4 linked regions of the Homo sapiens genome follow. The protein of the gene in region 1 purifies or fractionates together with the protein of each later gene. This does not show direct contact. Each region holds a gene or a part of one and is shown in the gene's direction. Other genes may lie near its edges.

Region 1 (4,152 bases):
AGCCTGTAAGGGGAGAACAGACATAGACTTCAGAAGGTGATTCTCCAGGTGACGAGGATGGGTTCACCAATGGCCTCTGACTGGTGGGGGGGTCTCCTGCTTTAAGGCCTCTGCTGTGATCGTGTGTGAAGGGATAAGTTCTCCCTCACTGGAACAAAATCACATTTCTGCAGCTCTTGTTGCCCCTTCCTTGGAAGGAAGCCATCCCCTTAGAAGGAGAAGCCATCTCCACTCTGACATACCTTGATGGATGTGAAACTCCTGCAGATCTTTCACAGGCCTTGTGCAAGGCCCCTCCTCTCCGAAGCCATTTTCCTACACATCGGGCTGGAGTAATTGGGAGCCGAAAGATGGCAGGCAGAATAAAAAGGCTCATTAGGTGAGAGTAATAAAACAAAACAAAACAAAACAAAAATGAGTGCAAGGGGAAGAGGAAAGGCTGGGGGTGGGAGCAGATGTTGTCCTGCCTCTTGGAAGTCCTTTTACTTTCTTGGGCATAGGAGGAAAAGAAATGGCCTTCTAGAATAAATTTTGCCAGAGGAGTCCTTATTCTTCACAGGATATCAGATCTCAAAGGGATTGGCGAGTGGCTTGCCTAAGGTCCACTGCAGTTTTGCATCAGTCTTCTCTTTCTGGGTGCGCAGTGGAGGTTCCTGACCCACTGCGAGGGTCTTGCCCACACGCTCCATCAGTGTTTCCTGAGTGCTCCTGTGGCTGGACACTGTGCTGGGGGGCTGCAAAGATGACCTGGCCAAGGTCCAGTCCTGGAGCTGCTCACAGGCAAGAGGCAAACCAACAGGTGGAACGGGGGTCGCTGAGGCAAGGGCTTGTCTGGGAGTGGCAGGAGCCGCAAGAAGTGCAACCACTCTGCCTGGAGAAACCAAGGAGGGCTTTCCCAAGGAGGTGAACTTTGAGCTTTGCTTTAAAGAACCCTTCCTCCACCCCTTGCCCCCACCACTCCTCAGGAGCAGCAAGCTTGTGGGCCTGGAGCTGTGGCCAGGATGTCTGGTTGCAGGGAGGCGGCAGGGGCGTCTGCGAGGGGGAGGAGAACAGTGTAAGGTGGAGGAGAGAGGGGAGGGGAGCGAGAAAAGAGGGGGAGGAATGGAGGGAGAAGGAGACGGGAGGGAGGGAGAGAGGGAGAGAAGGAGGGGACGAGGGGGGAGGGAGGGAGAGAAAGAGAGAGAGGAGAGAGAGAGAGAGAGAGAGACAGAGAGAGAGAGAGAGAGAGAGAGAGAGAGAGAGAGAGAGAGAGAGAGAGAGATTTGAATTTCCCATCTGGAAGGGGAGCGGTAGAACGTCAGGGCCCGGCTGAGGGGCGTGATTGGAGGGCGCCTTCGGCAGCCGCCCGCGGCAGAAGCCGCGGCTCCAGCTCGCCTGGCGGAATTGCACGCGGCGGCGGGAGCTGGAATAGCAGAAGGAACCACCTCGTGGAGTCGGGCCGGAGCCCTGCAGTGGCTCAGACGGTTGCAGGGACCGCCAGGTCGGTGCTGGCCGAGGGCCGGGAGGGCGGAGCTGGGCTGTGGGCAACAGGGTCCCGGCTCTCGCCTCGAGGCCTTGGGGCAGCTCGGGAAGCTGGGGAGCACGGCTTTCGGGGGGACAGCTCCCCAAGGCTGCCTGGGCACCGGATGGGGACTGAGAGGCGGTAAAGGGGACACTCCCGGGTGCGCTCTCCGTGGTGCTGAAAGGACAGCTCCTTGCGAGGGGCCGCGAGCAGGCAGCTAGCTGCGAACTAAGAGGAAGCGTGGGCCCTAGCCGGAGACTCCGGGCAGAGCCCGAACGGCCGGGGTCCCGGAGCCAGGACCGCCCCGGCTGCGGCGGAGACTCAAGTCTGAACCCAGAGAACAACTTTGAGCTCGCGGGAGTGGGGGACGTCGATCTAAGCTACTTCTGGCTGTGCTTAACCCGAAGCCCGCCGGAGCACGCTTCGCCCCGGAGGAGGGAGTCGCCCCCAGGGGTACAGTGCGCACTCCCGGAGTGAGTCAGAGGGCGGCGGCAGGGGGGCGGACAGACCGCAGGTGGAGGGGAGGAGAACGTAGACATTGACAGGGGATGGGGGACCAAGGGGACTATTTGTCCCTTTCCGGGAGGAGCCGCCGCTTGGACAGCGCACGCCCGCCGCCTGGAGTCTTCGGGAACGACCCCTTCTGTGCTCTCGTTCTCGTCGGCCTCAATCTGCCCCCTTCCCCAGCAAAGTTTGAAACCGGGCCGGGTCTTGGGGTTGGAGCTATGTGTGTTGGGGGAAGGGGCGCTCTCCGTGGCCCACCGGGAGATCCAGGACAGAGCTGCTGGGGGTGTGGGTCTCCGCGGGGGTCCGGGAGAGGGGCGCCGGGGTTCCTGTCCTCTCTTCTGGCCGGGAAACGGGAACCCCCGGCCACTTCCGCTTTTCAGCCGGAGTCGGCTCCCTACCTCCTCCCATCCTCCGCTGCCCCTCCCCTCCCCCATGCGTCTCCCATCCCGGGCCACGGGGTGGGGACGGGGCGGGGGGAGGGGGTGGAGTGACATCCCCTGTCTCTGCCACTGCCTTTGGCGTAGTCCCCTGCCAGAAGCAAATGAGTGTTGAATTGAGTTGCGGTGAATATAGCCCAGACTTGAATCATAAAAACAGAAAAACGGCCATAAGGACAACCACTGCAGGTTACCCGAGTCAGCCTGTCAGATGGCGGGGCCCAGTCCCGAAAACCTCTAGGGGCTCAGATGGTCGAGCCTGAGTCGGTGCTTGGGCTGGGACGGGCTCGGAGGGAGTCGGAGAGGGGAAGGAAGCTGAAGGCGCGCCCTGGGTCCCCGGCGCACTGAAGGTACGGAAACCTGGTGCTACGACGGCATCCCTCGCCGCCCCCGGCCTCCCCTCCCCCAGCGCAGCATCCCCCACCCACCCCCACTCCCACCCACCCCCACCCTCACCCCCCTTCCCGCGCAGGGATAGACCAAGGCTTCCCGCAGAATCGCTAAGGAGCGCCTCCTGGCGGCCTGGCCCAAATCCTCAACTGCCGGCAACCTGCTGGACCTCAGCACTCCCGCAGGCATATGGCAAAACATACACACACACACACCCTGCACACACGCACGCACTCACACGATGTCTAAGTCCAGAGTTGCACACACGGGGTCATACTTTCAACGCACACACCCTCATGCACTCGTTGACACGTTAAATTCAACCCGGCACACACGTCCTCAGGATCTACCATGTACCAGGACATGTAGCCAATTCTGGGGACAGGAGAAATGAAACAAGATACTGGTCCTGTCCTGAGAGGAGCTCAGAGTAACCAGGAAGGGCAAGACAAAGAAAGACAAACAGACAAAGAGAGCATGTACTGGAGGCAGGCAATACTGCCCCCAGAAAGTGCCACAGGTCTCCAAAGGGGAAGATGCCCTCACATCTTGCCAAGGAGATCCGTGAAATTGCATGGAGGGAGTGCTGTTTGAGAGAGATCTTCAGAAATCAATGCTGCTGATGATGATAATGATGACTGCGATGATGTTAGATAATATGTACCTACTTTGTGCCAACACTGGGCTGAGCACTTTATTTGCATCACCTCATTCAATGCTCACTACAAGCCTTGGGAATAGGTGTTGTTGTCTCCATTTCATAGATGAGAAAACATTGAGTCATTTGCTCAAGGTTACTTAGTAAGTGATGGAGCCAGGATTTGAACTGGCAGAGATGAGGGTAAGAGGTTCCAAGGCTGTGGGAATAGCATGCACAAATGCCCAGGCATTCTCAGAAAGATTATCTGTTGGGAAATAATACGTGCTAAGCAGAGCCCTGTGCAAGAGGTGGCACACGAGCAGCAAGGAAGACGGGTGCTAGACTGTGCAGGCCTTGAAGGTCAGCACAAGGACTCGTATCAGTTTAACAAGGCCATGGGGAGCCATTGCAGGGTGTGTATGCATGAGAAAATCTGCCCTTTAGGAAGATTAATTGGATGGCCACGTGGAGGCTGGATGAGAGCTGAGGGAGAGACAGTTAGAGGTTATGGATAAATCCAGAATCTCTAGGTCCTGAACCAAGGCATTAGCAGCAGTCACAGAGTGGAGGGTGGGGATGTAGGCAGCATTGCAAAGCTACAGCGTCTGGACTTCTCCCTGGAATTCTCCCTCGGCACCCCCATCCCAATCTTAACTCACCAATTCCTTGCATGATCT
Region 2 (3,881 bases), on another chromosome or scaffold:
TGCCAGAAATTTGACTGCTTGTATGTGAATGCTGCATAAAATAGGTCCTGGGAATTCTAATTTAGCAAAATTCCAACTCCTAACCTTGTAAAGAAGTTTCCACTCCGAAAATATTTTTTATTGGTATGTCTTCCTCTTTCTTGTCTTTCTTGAGTGAAACTGACTATAAAAATAAAGTAAGCTTTAAAAAAATTATCTGTCCTGAGTTGCTGTAGTTAACTGGTTATTTGCAAAATGCATGTATTTCACCATAGCAGCTTAAAACCAGTTACTTTGGGCAGATTTAAATTTATAACCAGCCAAAAACTATTTTGGTATATTTTGGGTTTTTGGTTCCCATCTTATTCTCACCAGACTGAGAGACGGGTATTGAAAGCATTTACTAGAGTTTTCCTAATTTGTTTTTTAAATAATATTTTTGCATATAAAAGTACTTTTGCCCATTGTAGAAAAATCAAAATACAGGGCATTATGAAGAAAACCAGCCACCCAGAGATAGCCACTTAGCATTTTGCTGTTTTTACTTGCACCTGTTTTAAAGAATCTATGTTATAAACATAGTTGGGTTCATAATTCACATAGTTTTGTATCCTGCCTCATTTTTTTTAACTTAACATTACACATAGATCTTCCTGAGCCATTCCAATTTCTTTGAAAAGAGTGGCTGTAGAACATTCTCTCATATGTGTATACTATAATTTATTTAAACATTTTTCTTTTTCTTTTTTTCTTTTTTTTTTCTTTTTTTTTTTTTTGTGATGGAGTTTCACTCTTTTTGCCCAGGCTGGAGTGCAATGGTACAATCTCAGCTCACCGCAACCTTTACCTCCCAGGTTCAAGTGATTCTCCTGCCTCAGCCTCCCGAGTAGCTGGGATTACAGGCATGTGCCACCACACCTGGCTAGTTTTGTATTTTTAGTTGAGATGGTGTTTCTCCATGTTGGTCAGGCTGGTCTTGAACTCCTGACCTCAGGTGATGCGCCCGTCTCAGCCTCCCAAAGTGCTGGGATTACAGGCGTGAGCTGCTGTACCCGGACCTAAATATTTTTCAATTGTTGATAGGTGGTTTTACATTTTAGACTGTTCTAAATAATTCTACAATGAATGTGCTTGTGCATTAATTGCTTGAGTGTGATTATTTTTTAGACTAGGTTTATAGAGTAAAATTACTGGCTTAGAGAATACAAATTTTTTAAAAACCTTGTTGAATAAGGCAAATTGCATTCTAGAGAGTATGTACCAATTTCCAGCTGTATACAACAGTGCCCATCTTAACTGTATCTTGTCAATGTTGAGCTCAATATAGTATTTTAAATGGCACCTCTCTTTTCAGTTTTGCTCGCTAATTGAATTTAATATATTTTTTTCAAAATGTACCCATCTAAACCTGTTTTGGATGTAAGTTTCAAGATAAACTACTTTCCCTAAAGTTCTTAGTGAAGTGGGATAATGTTTGATGCGTTAAAAAAATAGATTGCAAAATAGTATGTGTAGAATTACGTTTCACTAAGCATTGTAACACTGTGAGGCATCTCTGCTTGGTGAGTATGAGTGATTTAAAATTTTTCTTTGTGCTTTTTTGTTTTCCAGAATTTCTTTAATATAATAGAACTTTGTAATTAAGCTACAGTTCAAATGCTGTACCTCCTTAAGAATTTATAAGCCATCCAAAAGCTTTGCCTTCTTGATAATTTGGCATAGTATTTCTTTTTACAGTAATACTTTGAAGTTTCTGTATTTATTTAAGGAAGAAAGGGGTATTTCTTGTATCAATAATGGGCACTGGCCCTCATGTTTTCTGGGAAACAGCTGTAGTGAGACTGTTTCTGTTTCTGACATATGAATATTTTTTAAATGATAGCCTGAATGAGAGTTTTAGTGTTTGACTTGCTTAGAGAAATGTAAGAAATTTTATTGGAATTTATATTAGCCTCTTGGTACACCAATATTGCTTAGAGGCCGAGTAATCCAAAAGTTAGGAATGCTAAGTGTTCTTTATGTTCAAATTAATAAAAAGAGGGATGAGAACACTTTAGAACAAGGTGTCCAGCAACCAAGAAGCAAATGAACAGTTTTTTAGATTTAGCTTGTTGTGAATCTATTTTGGCATGTCATGTACAGTTAAATGGCCTCATTATAAAAGTTCACTTGGTACAGTACATTATGATATGTTAATCAAAACCACTGAAAGTCATTGTTATGTAACTTTTTAAAGATAACTTTTTTCCTAAATGTAGAGCATGAGCTAGTTAATCAATATGAATTATCCATTAAATTCAAAAGGTAAGGTATAATAAAATACATTGAAAGAATCTGTTCTTTTATCTGTTTGCCTGAATTCATAGTGCAAGAGGTAAGTGACATAGATTAAATTGAAATACTGTGCATATTTTCATAATATAATCAACTTGACATCACAAAATAGTCTCAGAGCTCAAGGTATTAAAAAAACTACCTAATTCTTTCACCTTGTCTCCTTCCCTCGCTTTAAATGGATTTTACTAGGTTCTCAAATAGTAAGTTATGTGAGATATTTTTCCCACAGAGTCTCATTAATTAAGTGGATTTTTTTTTTTTTTTTTAGACGGAGTCTCGCTCTGTTGCCCAGGCTGGAGTGCAGTGGCACGATCTTGGCTCACTGCAGCCCCCACCTCCTGGGTTCAAGCAGTTATGCTTCAGCCTCCCAAGTAGCTGGGATTAGAGGCATGCGCCACCACACCCCAGCTAATTTTTTTGTATTTTTAGTAGAGATGGGGTTTCACCATATTGGCCAGGCTGGTCTCAAACTCCTGACCTTGTGATCTGCCTGCCTCTGCCTCCCAAAGTGCTGGGATTACAGGCATGAGCCACCGCACTTAGCAATTAAGTGGAAATTTTAAGGAAAACTTTTTTTTTCTGGTATGAGACATTTTCTCCAGTTACTTGTACCTAGGAAGATCTGGATTACATAAAAAGTCTCTTTTATAATGTTATATACAGCTCACATTCCTGAATTACAGTATTTCAAATTTTCTCTTGACCATAATGAAACAATAGACATTAATAACATTCTGTTAATTTTGTCAGTGTTTAACATGGGAAAAAATACCCCAGAAGAATTTTATTCCGGTTATTCTAAGGAGAGAAAACAAGAAAAGTAGCATTAATTACAAAACTTTTCAATAACCAATTTGTTTTCCTTGACAGAAATTGATATGCCTCTAATCTGATATACAGCCTTAGAAAGTCACATACTAATAATATTATTTTGTCGTTTTGCTGTAGATGTGTTCTTTGTGCCATTGTCCTGGAGCAACAATTGGTTGTGATGTGAAAACATGTCACAGGACATACCACTACCACTGTGCATTGCATGATAAAGCTCAAATACGAGAGAAACCTTCACAAGGAATTTACATGTAATTATTTAACTTCTCTTTAAGTTTTTTTTTTAACAATAATACTTTCTTTGGGCTTTTGTAAAAATTTTTCCCATTTCAAAGCATTTCATCATCATCATAAAGGGTGTTTTTGATAAGAAATTTAATACTTAGAGAAATAGTACAGGAAGTTTAATAATATATTTTGAATCCAGCTAGTGAATTGGGTGAAGTGTACTGCTCGTTTTCTTAATTTGAAAAGTGAGTTTAATTTAGTTTGCTTACTAATTTTTGATTTCTTCATTTTTTATAGGGTCTATTGCCGAAAACACAAGAAAACTGCACATAACTCCGAAGGTACATCATTTAGCCACGTTTCAGCCACTTTTCAGTTTCAAGAAGAAATTTGAGTACAGATTAGTGAATTATACTATATTAATTTTAACCATAAGACATATCTCAACATTCAGTACATTTAGAAGAATTGAGAAAAGTGTTAGGATAAACTAATGTGCATAGTGA
Region 3 (3,881 bases), on another chromosome or scaffold:
TGAGATTGCCCCATTGCACTCCAGCCTGGGCAACAAGAGCAAAACTCTGTCTCAAAAAAAAAAAGAACTTTTTTGTAGGGATTATGTTGTAATAGGATTTGACATAGCTAATCATTAGACTCTGTTTATATAATCTCAGATCAGGCAAATCTGGCAGGAATATTTATAATTGTTTATGTAGAGAAAGGTGGGTTTTTGGACACTGCAGCTTCTGTTGAATAATAATCTGGCAGTTGTAATTGCCACTAAATTTTAAAGATTCCAGGAGTGGTTCCTGAATGATGGGACAGACACTTCTGTAAGATTGTTCAGAAAATTTCCAGCTTACTTACACTCCATATAATACAGAGAGAGATAGTTGGTATCATTAAAAAAAGAAAGGAAGTTAATAGTTAATATGCTAGGTTTTTGAAGACAGCTTTATATGTATTGTCTCATTTAATCCTCACAACAGCCCTTCAGGGTAACTACCTTGGTAATGGTATCTTCATTTTGCAAGTGAGGAAAGTGAGGCTCAGAGAGATTAAGTAACTTGCCCAAAGTAACACAGCCAGTATGTAACAGAGCTAGGATTTGAATCTAAGTCTGTCAGACTCCAAAATCTATGCTCTTTCCAGTACTTCACACTGCAGCAAGTAAGTGTGATACTTGGCCCTGTGATTGCCTTACTTAGGGCACCCAAAACTTCAGCCTGTTTCTATTGCTTACTATCCAAATCCTAGTCAGACCCCAGTTAGAAGACCCTGTGACTCGAGCCAGGATCAGTCCTTGTATGTACTGGTCTGATTGCAGTGATAGTTATCATTTCTTTCTGAACGTTGCAATTACTCCTCCACAAAGAGGAATATACATCTTTAAATATGATTAAAATGTGATTTCTTCTATTATAGCATAGCAGCAAAATTTGTCCTTGCAGTTTCCAGCAGGTGTATTCAACCCTATAATTTAAAGCTTCATTCATACTCTAGCCAAAGGACTATGGGAAGTCATTTTGCTTTTTTTTGGCAGGGAACGGCTGTTCTATTCCCTATCCTGCTTATATCATAAAATTGTTGTAAGAGTGAAATGAGATAATAGATGTTCAACTGTAAGAAAGTACTGTGTGGTAATCTCTTACCTTTCTAAAAGCCCCATCTAAGTAGAGATTCTTCCTTTGTGAAATTCTAGCATATACAGATTTATTTCTATAAATCGTTTTAGTTAGGCAAGAGAATCTTGAGAGTGTACTTGAATTGTAGATTACTCCAACCTGAGATTTAGGCTTAGCTATTAACATACAAAAGGTATTTTTCACTTTAGTGTACATATTAGAACAAGGTGAGGTTAATTTTTAAGTATCTTGTTGGAAATGCATGGCAGGGAAATTCTGAAGAAGAATTATAAGTAATGACAAATAAATATATTTAATGTACAGTACAAATTACCCAAGTTATTGTTTTTCTTTTGATTCATCATATTATCTTCATTGATTTATTTTAGTGGCTTTTAAAGATATTTGCAGTGCCTTTCATGACTTTAGTTCTCTGGTCTCGCTTTTTCCCTAAGGCCTTAAATACATCATTTCATTCATTCATAATGTTCATTTTTATTAAGGATTTACTGTATAAGGCTGAGGATAGATAAAGCAGTGAGCTCACAGGAGAAAGCAAAAGAGGCAAAAATCCCTGCCCTTGTGCAGGTTAAATTTCTTTTCTTTTTTTTTTTTTTTTTTTTGTTGTTGTTGTTGTTGTTGAGATGGAGTTTTGCTCTTTCACCCAGGCTGGAGTGCAGTGGCACGATCTGGGCTCACTGTAACCTCCACCTCCTGGGTTCAAGCGATTCTCATGCCTCAGCCTTCTGAGTACCTGGGATTACAGGCATCTGCCACCGCGCCTGGCTAATTTTTGTATTTTCAGTAGAGATGGGGTTTCACCATGTTGGCCAGGCTGGTCTCGAACTCCTGACCTCAGGCAATCCACTCACCTCGGCCTCCCAAAGTGCTGGGATTACAGGCATGAGCCACCACACCTGGCCACAGCTTACATTTCAATAGTGAGATTATAGGTGACAAATAATATAAATAAGCCATATGTCAGTTGATAATAGAACAATAGGAAAAAATAAAGGGAAGAGGGTTGCAGTTTTAAATAAGTGATTAGGGAAGACCTCATTGAGAAATGGCATCTGGACAAATCTGAAGGAAATGAGGGAGGGAGTTATGTTGTCAAGCAGAGGAAGAGCATGCTGGCTAGTACCGAGACACTGAGGTGGAAATGTGTAGCAGCAATAGCAAGGAGGTCAGTATGATTAAAATCAGTCATGCGTGTGTGTTGGGGGTGGGGGGTGGAGGGGGCCTTACAGTCCATTCTGAGGACTTTACATCTGTGTGCAATGGAAGTCATTGAGATTTTAAGCAAAATTCTAACACGGAGTTTTCAGGAACACATCATCCTTGGACATTGTAGAGGAAACACTGTAAGTTAAAGGTATTATTAGATGTTCTTACTCCTCTACTGAAATGCAGGATTTTATTTTGTTTTTGTGTTTTGTGTTTTAAGACGGAGTTTTGCTCTTGTCATCCAGGCTGGAGTGCAGTGGCACCATCTCGGCTCACTGCAACCTCCGCCTCCTGGTTCAAGCAATTCTCCTGCCTCAGTCTCCAGAGTAGCTGGGATTACAGGCATCTGCCACCAAGCCTGGCTAATTTTTGTGTTTTTAGTAGAGATGGGGTTTCGCCATGTTGACCAGGCTGGCCTTGAACTCCTGACTTCAGGTGATCCACCCGCCTTGGCCTCCCAAAGTGCTGGGATTACAGGCGTGAGCCACTGGGCCCGGACAGATTTTGTTATTTTATATATTAAAACTATATGTATTCATGTATTATATAATAAAATATATTTTTTAAATTTAAGGCAAAAATGTTTTAAAATACACACTGCCAGTAACTACTTGCAGAAGGAAAAGTATATTGGAAAACCTCACAGAAGTTTTTAAAATTTTTAAATTTAAAACAACCAGTTAACATGGAAAGTTAGATTTATATTTAAGAATTTACTAGGCAGCCATAAAAAGAATGAAATCATGTCCTTTGCAGCAACATGGATGGAGCAGGAGGCCATTATCCTAAGAGAACTAATTCAGAAACAGAAAATCAAGTATCTCATGTTCTCACTTATAAGTGAGAGCTAAACATAGGTACCCATGGACATAAAGACGAAAGTAGTAGACACAGACCATTCCAAAATGGAAGAGTTTGGGAGAAGACTGAGGATTGAAAAAGTACCTCTTGGGTTCAAGGTTCAATATTTGGGTCATGTGTGTATAAGTCCAGTCCCCACCATTACACAGTATACCAGTGTAACAAACATACACATGTACCCTCTGAATCTAAAATAAATTAATTAAAAAAATTAAAGACACTTCCTAAAGTTTGCCCCCCCAAAAAGTTAACTAGTATGGCTTATTTATTTATTTATTTATTTATTTATTTGGAGATGGAGTCTCACTCCATCTCATCACAGTGATGTGATCTCGGCTCATTGCAACCTCCACCTCCTGGGTTCAAGTGATTCTCCTGCCTCACACTCCTGAGTAGCTGGGACTACCGGAGTGCACCACCATACCCGGCCAAGTTTTGTATATTTTGTAGAGATGGGGTTTCACCATGTTGGCTAGACTGGTCTTGAACTCCCAACCTCAAGCAATCTGCCTGCCTTGGCCTCCCAGAGTGCTGGGATTATAGGCGTAAACCACCATGCCTGGCTTAGTATAGCTTTTTAAAATGAAAGATGATCTGTTTATGACATGACCTCTAAAAAAGTTAATTGTGGTGTCATAAATAGGATTCTATCACTCCCAGTACCACCATGGTGAAGGATATAAACTGAAACATCTGAATCTTA
Region 4 (3,881 bases), on another chromosome or scaffold:
CGCGGGGACACCGACGGGGGCAGCAAGGCAGCCTCCATGGATCCCCCAAGAGCCACAGAGCCTGGTAAGACCCTCTCCCACTGCCTCCTCATGGTCCCCTTGCCACTGTCCCTACCCTGTGCCTCCAGGAAGTCCTCCTGACTTCACTGGAAAGCCCTCTCCTCTCCCTGGGCCACCCTGGAGGCCCCTAAGACTGGGGACAGCCGAGGGGACAGGTGGTGGCCGCTCAGCCCTCATCCCTCCCTCCACTCACTCCAGCTCCTCCACTGTAACCGCAGGCCCTGCCCTCAGTGCTGAAGCAGCAGTCCAGCCCGCTGGGCTCCAGAGAGATGAGGCCAGGCCCACTGACCGATGCCCTTGGGCTCAGAGGGTGCTAGAGGTGGCAGGAAAGGCAGGCGGCAAGGCCCTGGTGGGAGGACCCCATTCCTGGGGTGGCTGCCTCAGGGTGCTGGGAATGGCATGGCCCAGTGTCCCCCACCCTGCCACAGTGTAGACAGACCAAGGACGCTGAGGCCGGGTCCTGCTCTGAGACATCAGAGGAGGCTTTCTGGGGAGGAGGTTTTGCAGGGCGTTCAGGTAGACAGCGGAATGGAGGAGGCTGCACCTGGGCTGGCTCGGGGGCAGGGTGCCTGCCCTTCACTGGTGTGTCCCTCCATCCAGTGGCCACCAGTAACCCTGCAGGAGATCCCGTGGGCAGCACGCGCTGTCCCGCCTCTGAGCCCGGCCTTGATGCTACAACAGCCAGCGAGTCCCGGGGCTGGGACCTTGTAGACGCCGTGACCCCCGGCCCTCAGCCCACCCTGGAGCAGTTGGAGGAGGGTGGTCCACGGCCCCTGGAGAGGCGTTCTTCCTGGTATGTGGATGCCAGCGATGTCCTAACCACTGAGGATCCCCAGTGCCCCCAGCCCTTGGAGGGGGCCTGGCCGGTGACTCTGGGAGATGCTCAGGCCCTGAAGCCCCTCAAGTTCTCCAGCAACCAGCCCCCTGCAGCCGGAAGTTCAAGGCAAGATGCCAAGGATCCCACGTCCTTGCTGGGCGTCCTCCAGGCCGAGGCCGACAGCACAAGTGAGGGGCTGGAGGACGCTGTCCACAGCCGTGGTGCCAGACCCCCTGCAGCAGGCCCAGGTGGGGATGAGGACGAGGACGAGGAGGACACGGCCCCAGAGTCCGCACTGGACACATCCCTGGACAAGTCCTTCTCCGAGGATGCGGTGACCGACTCCTCGGGGTCGGGCACACTCCCCAGGGCCCGGGGCCGGGCCTCAAAGGGGACCGGGAAGCGAAGGAAGAAGCGTCCCTCCAGGAGCCAGGAAGGTAACTCAGGGAGGGGCCCCGGGCACCGTCCCACGCCAGGGCGCTGGCACCCAGCCGGTCCCTCCCCTTCCCCATTGGGCACTGCAAGTTCCAGCGGCACCCAGGAGAGGTGACTTGGGTGCGGCACGGGAGAGGAGGCGGCAGTGCGTCCACCGCAGGGCGGCTATGTGGGCTGCCGCGGCCCGTGCAACTATTCCTCCAACCTACTAATTCCGACCTTCACGCCACCTCCGTTAGGGAGTAGGGGGCGGACACCGGGCACCAGGTCCCAGGCAAGTGGCTGCCATGTGGCTTAGTGGCCAGAGAACCGGGCAGCCCTCAGAGGGTGTTGGCATGGCTGTCCCGGGCCCCCCAGCCCCACCCACTCCGAGTCAGGGTTGCTTCTGTGTGATAAGCCGTTGAGTGCGTTTCTTTTATTTGGAAGCAGAGGTTCCCCCTGATTCTGATGATAATAAAACAAAGAAACTGTGTGTGATCCAGTAAGGTATGTACGCAGCCGGCGCTCCGTGGGGGCTAACAGCAGCTGCAGGGCAGTGGGGCTGGAGCTTGCTGCCCACACCCCTCCGGGACACTAACCTGGCTTCTCTCCAGCCCGCGTGGTGCGTCAGTGTGGCCTTGCCGCTCCCGCAGCCCTGGTGGTGGGCTTCCCGCCCCATCCCCTCCCTCTCCGCAGGTTACCTGCTCAACTGGTGCCTCCTGCAGGCAGGACGCAACCTCAGTGCTGGCCCCGGGCATGCGGGCCTCGAGAGGGCAGGTGGCAGGGCCAGCCGGACTCCCTTAGCAAGCAGGATCCGGGCCCTGGGGCGTGGGCGGGACCTCCTGGCTGGCAGGACAGGCTGAGGTTGCTCCTGTCTGGTGTCCTGGCGCTAACTGCAGTTCCAGTAACCCTGTGGCTTTCCTGCTCTGTCTGTTGGTGGAGGGCTATCTTCACTCTAAGTGTGTCAATGGCGTGGGGCCTTCTGGGGCATGTCCCCAGGAAGTCTGTGAGGAGACCGGGACAGTCGCAAGGGCAGATGCTGCCAGGGACAAGTACACTGCAACCCCCCTCCTGTTGGACAGTGTCCTCCCACCCCGAGGCCATGGGTGGGTCTATGGAGAAGCAGATTACCCCCCGCACACCGAGTCTTCTGGGGGGCGACCAGCCAAAGGTCAATCAGCCAGGTCCGTCCACAGGGCTGGAGAGGCCAATGCATCCAGCTAGACAGGACCAGCCTGCACTGGGTGGAGGAGGGGCTAGAGCAGAGAACCAGAAGGTCCAGCCCGGCCGATCATGAGCTCTGTGAGCCCAGGTCGTGGCGTCTTCCAGCACCTCCAGCCTTGCTCAGAGCCAGCCCGGTGTCGGTGCATCACAAATATGCTGACCGCTGGGCCTGGGGCTTAGGCTCAAGGTGCACACCTGAGGTCTGCTGGTGCCCATCAGAGGCAAGAGCAGTCGTGACCCCGGAGAAGCTTCTCCGGACAGCTTGTCCTCGCTGTTGGGGCACGGCCTTCACCCTGGGTTCCAGCTTTTGCTTCCAGGGTCATCTTCCGAGTGTGGCTCTCTGGTGTGAAGCACCCACGTGTACTTTTTAGAAAGGTGCTGGCATCTCCCTTAGAGGCTGGAACTTGGACTTGCTGGCCCTGAGTGTGAGGAACAGTGGAGCATGCAGGTCTGGGGCGGGCGGCCACATCTGACAATGGTCCAGTGAAAGATGGACGTGTCCAGTGCCAGCTCCACGCTCCACCTGGTTCCCTCCTGAACCTGCTACACGTGCTTAGCCTCCACCCGCCCCAGCTCCTGCCACGCACGTGGCTGAGGGCAAGAGGAAGAAGTCCTCTTCTCTCCCCAACTTTTTATTTTTTATTTTTTTTCAAGACGGAGTCTCACTCTGTTGCCCAGGCTGGAGTGCAGTGGTGCGATCTGAGCTCACAGCAACCTCCACCTTCCAGGTTCAAGTGATTCTCCTGCCTCAGCCTCCCGAGTAGCTGGGACCACAGGCACACGCCACCACGCGCGGCTAATTTTTTGTATTTTTAGCAGAGACAGGGTTTCACCATGTTGGTCAGGCTGGTCTCGAACTCCTGACCTCAGGTGATCCACCCGCCTCGGCCTCCCAAAGTGCTGGGATTACAGGCGTGAGCCACCGTGCCCAGCCCCCACCTTTTTATTTAGAAAATCTTCAACACCACAGGAAACTGCATAGATCAGAATGAACAACACCTTCTCCCCGAAATTACAACCATTTGCCAAAAATACCAAAATTGTGACCATTTTGCTACATTGCCCCCCTCCAACTGAGGCATCTGAGAGTTTCTTATAAACATCATGGCACTGGAGCCCTAAACTCGCCCACAGACACCTGAGAGCACAGCCGTCTTCCTCAGTCCCCCCCGGGCAGGGTGCGCTGCCGTCCTCCCAGTCCGCCCCCACCGGGCAGGGTGCGCTGCCGTCCTCCCAGTCCCCCCCCCGGGCAGGGCGCGCTGCCGTCCTCCTAGTCCGCCCCCCCGGGCAGGGTGCGCTGCCGTCCTCCCAGTCCCCCCCGGGCAGGGTCCGCTGTGGGGCGCTTCACGTCCACATGCTTCTAATA

The links.
Region 2: the proteins of CPLX2 (region 1) and PHF6 purify together in Homo sapiens (affinity purification with mass spectrometry; one large-scale study listed by BioGRID and IntAct). This does not show direct contact.
Region 3: the proteins of CPLX2 (region 1) and SRP54 purify together in Homo sapiens (affinity purification with mass spectrometry; one large-scale study listed by BioGRID and IntAct). This does not show direct contact.
Region 4: the proteins of CPLX2 (region 1) and INF2 purify together in Homo sapiens (affinity purification with mass spectrometry; one large-scale study listed by BioGRID and IntAct). This does not show direct contact.

The regions. Positions count from the first base shown.
Region 1 is NC_000005.10:175,870,226-175,874,377, forward strand, and holds the start of CPLX2 (complexin-2), read left to right. Parts: upstream 1-1,352; 5' UTR 1,353-1,480; exon of another isoform or gene 1,481-1,974; intron 1,975-2,541; exon of another isoform or gene 2,542-2,795; intron 2,796-4,152. UniProt on the Homo sapiens protein: Negatively regulates the formation of synaptic vesicle clustering at active zone to the presynaptic membrane in postmitotic neurons.
Region 2 is NC_000023.11:134,390,237-134,394,117, forward strand, and holds part of PHF6 (PHD finger protein 6), read left to right. Parts: intron 1-3,264; coding exon 3,265-3,398; intron 3,399-3,672; coding exon 3,673-3,716; intron 3,717-3,881.
Region 3 is NC_000014.9:34,989,417-34,993,297, forward strand, and holds part of SRP54 (signal recognition particle subunit SRP54), read left to right. Parts: intron 1-3,827; exon of another isoform or gene 3,828-3,881. UniProt on the Homo sapiens protein: Component of the signal recognition particle (SRP) complex, a ribonucleoprotein complex that mediates the cotranslational targeting of secretory and membrane proteins to the endoplasmic reticulum (ER).
Region 4 is NC_000014.9:104,713,543-104,717,423, forward strand, and holds part of INF2 (inverted formin-2), read left to right. Parts: coding exon 1-64; intron 65-660; coding exon 661-1,314; intron 1,315-1,741; coding exon 1,742-1,797; 3' UTR 1,798-1,798; intron 1,799-3,881.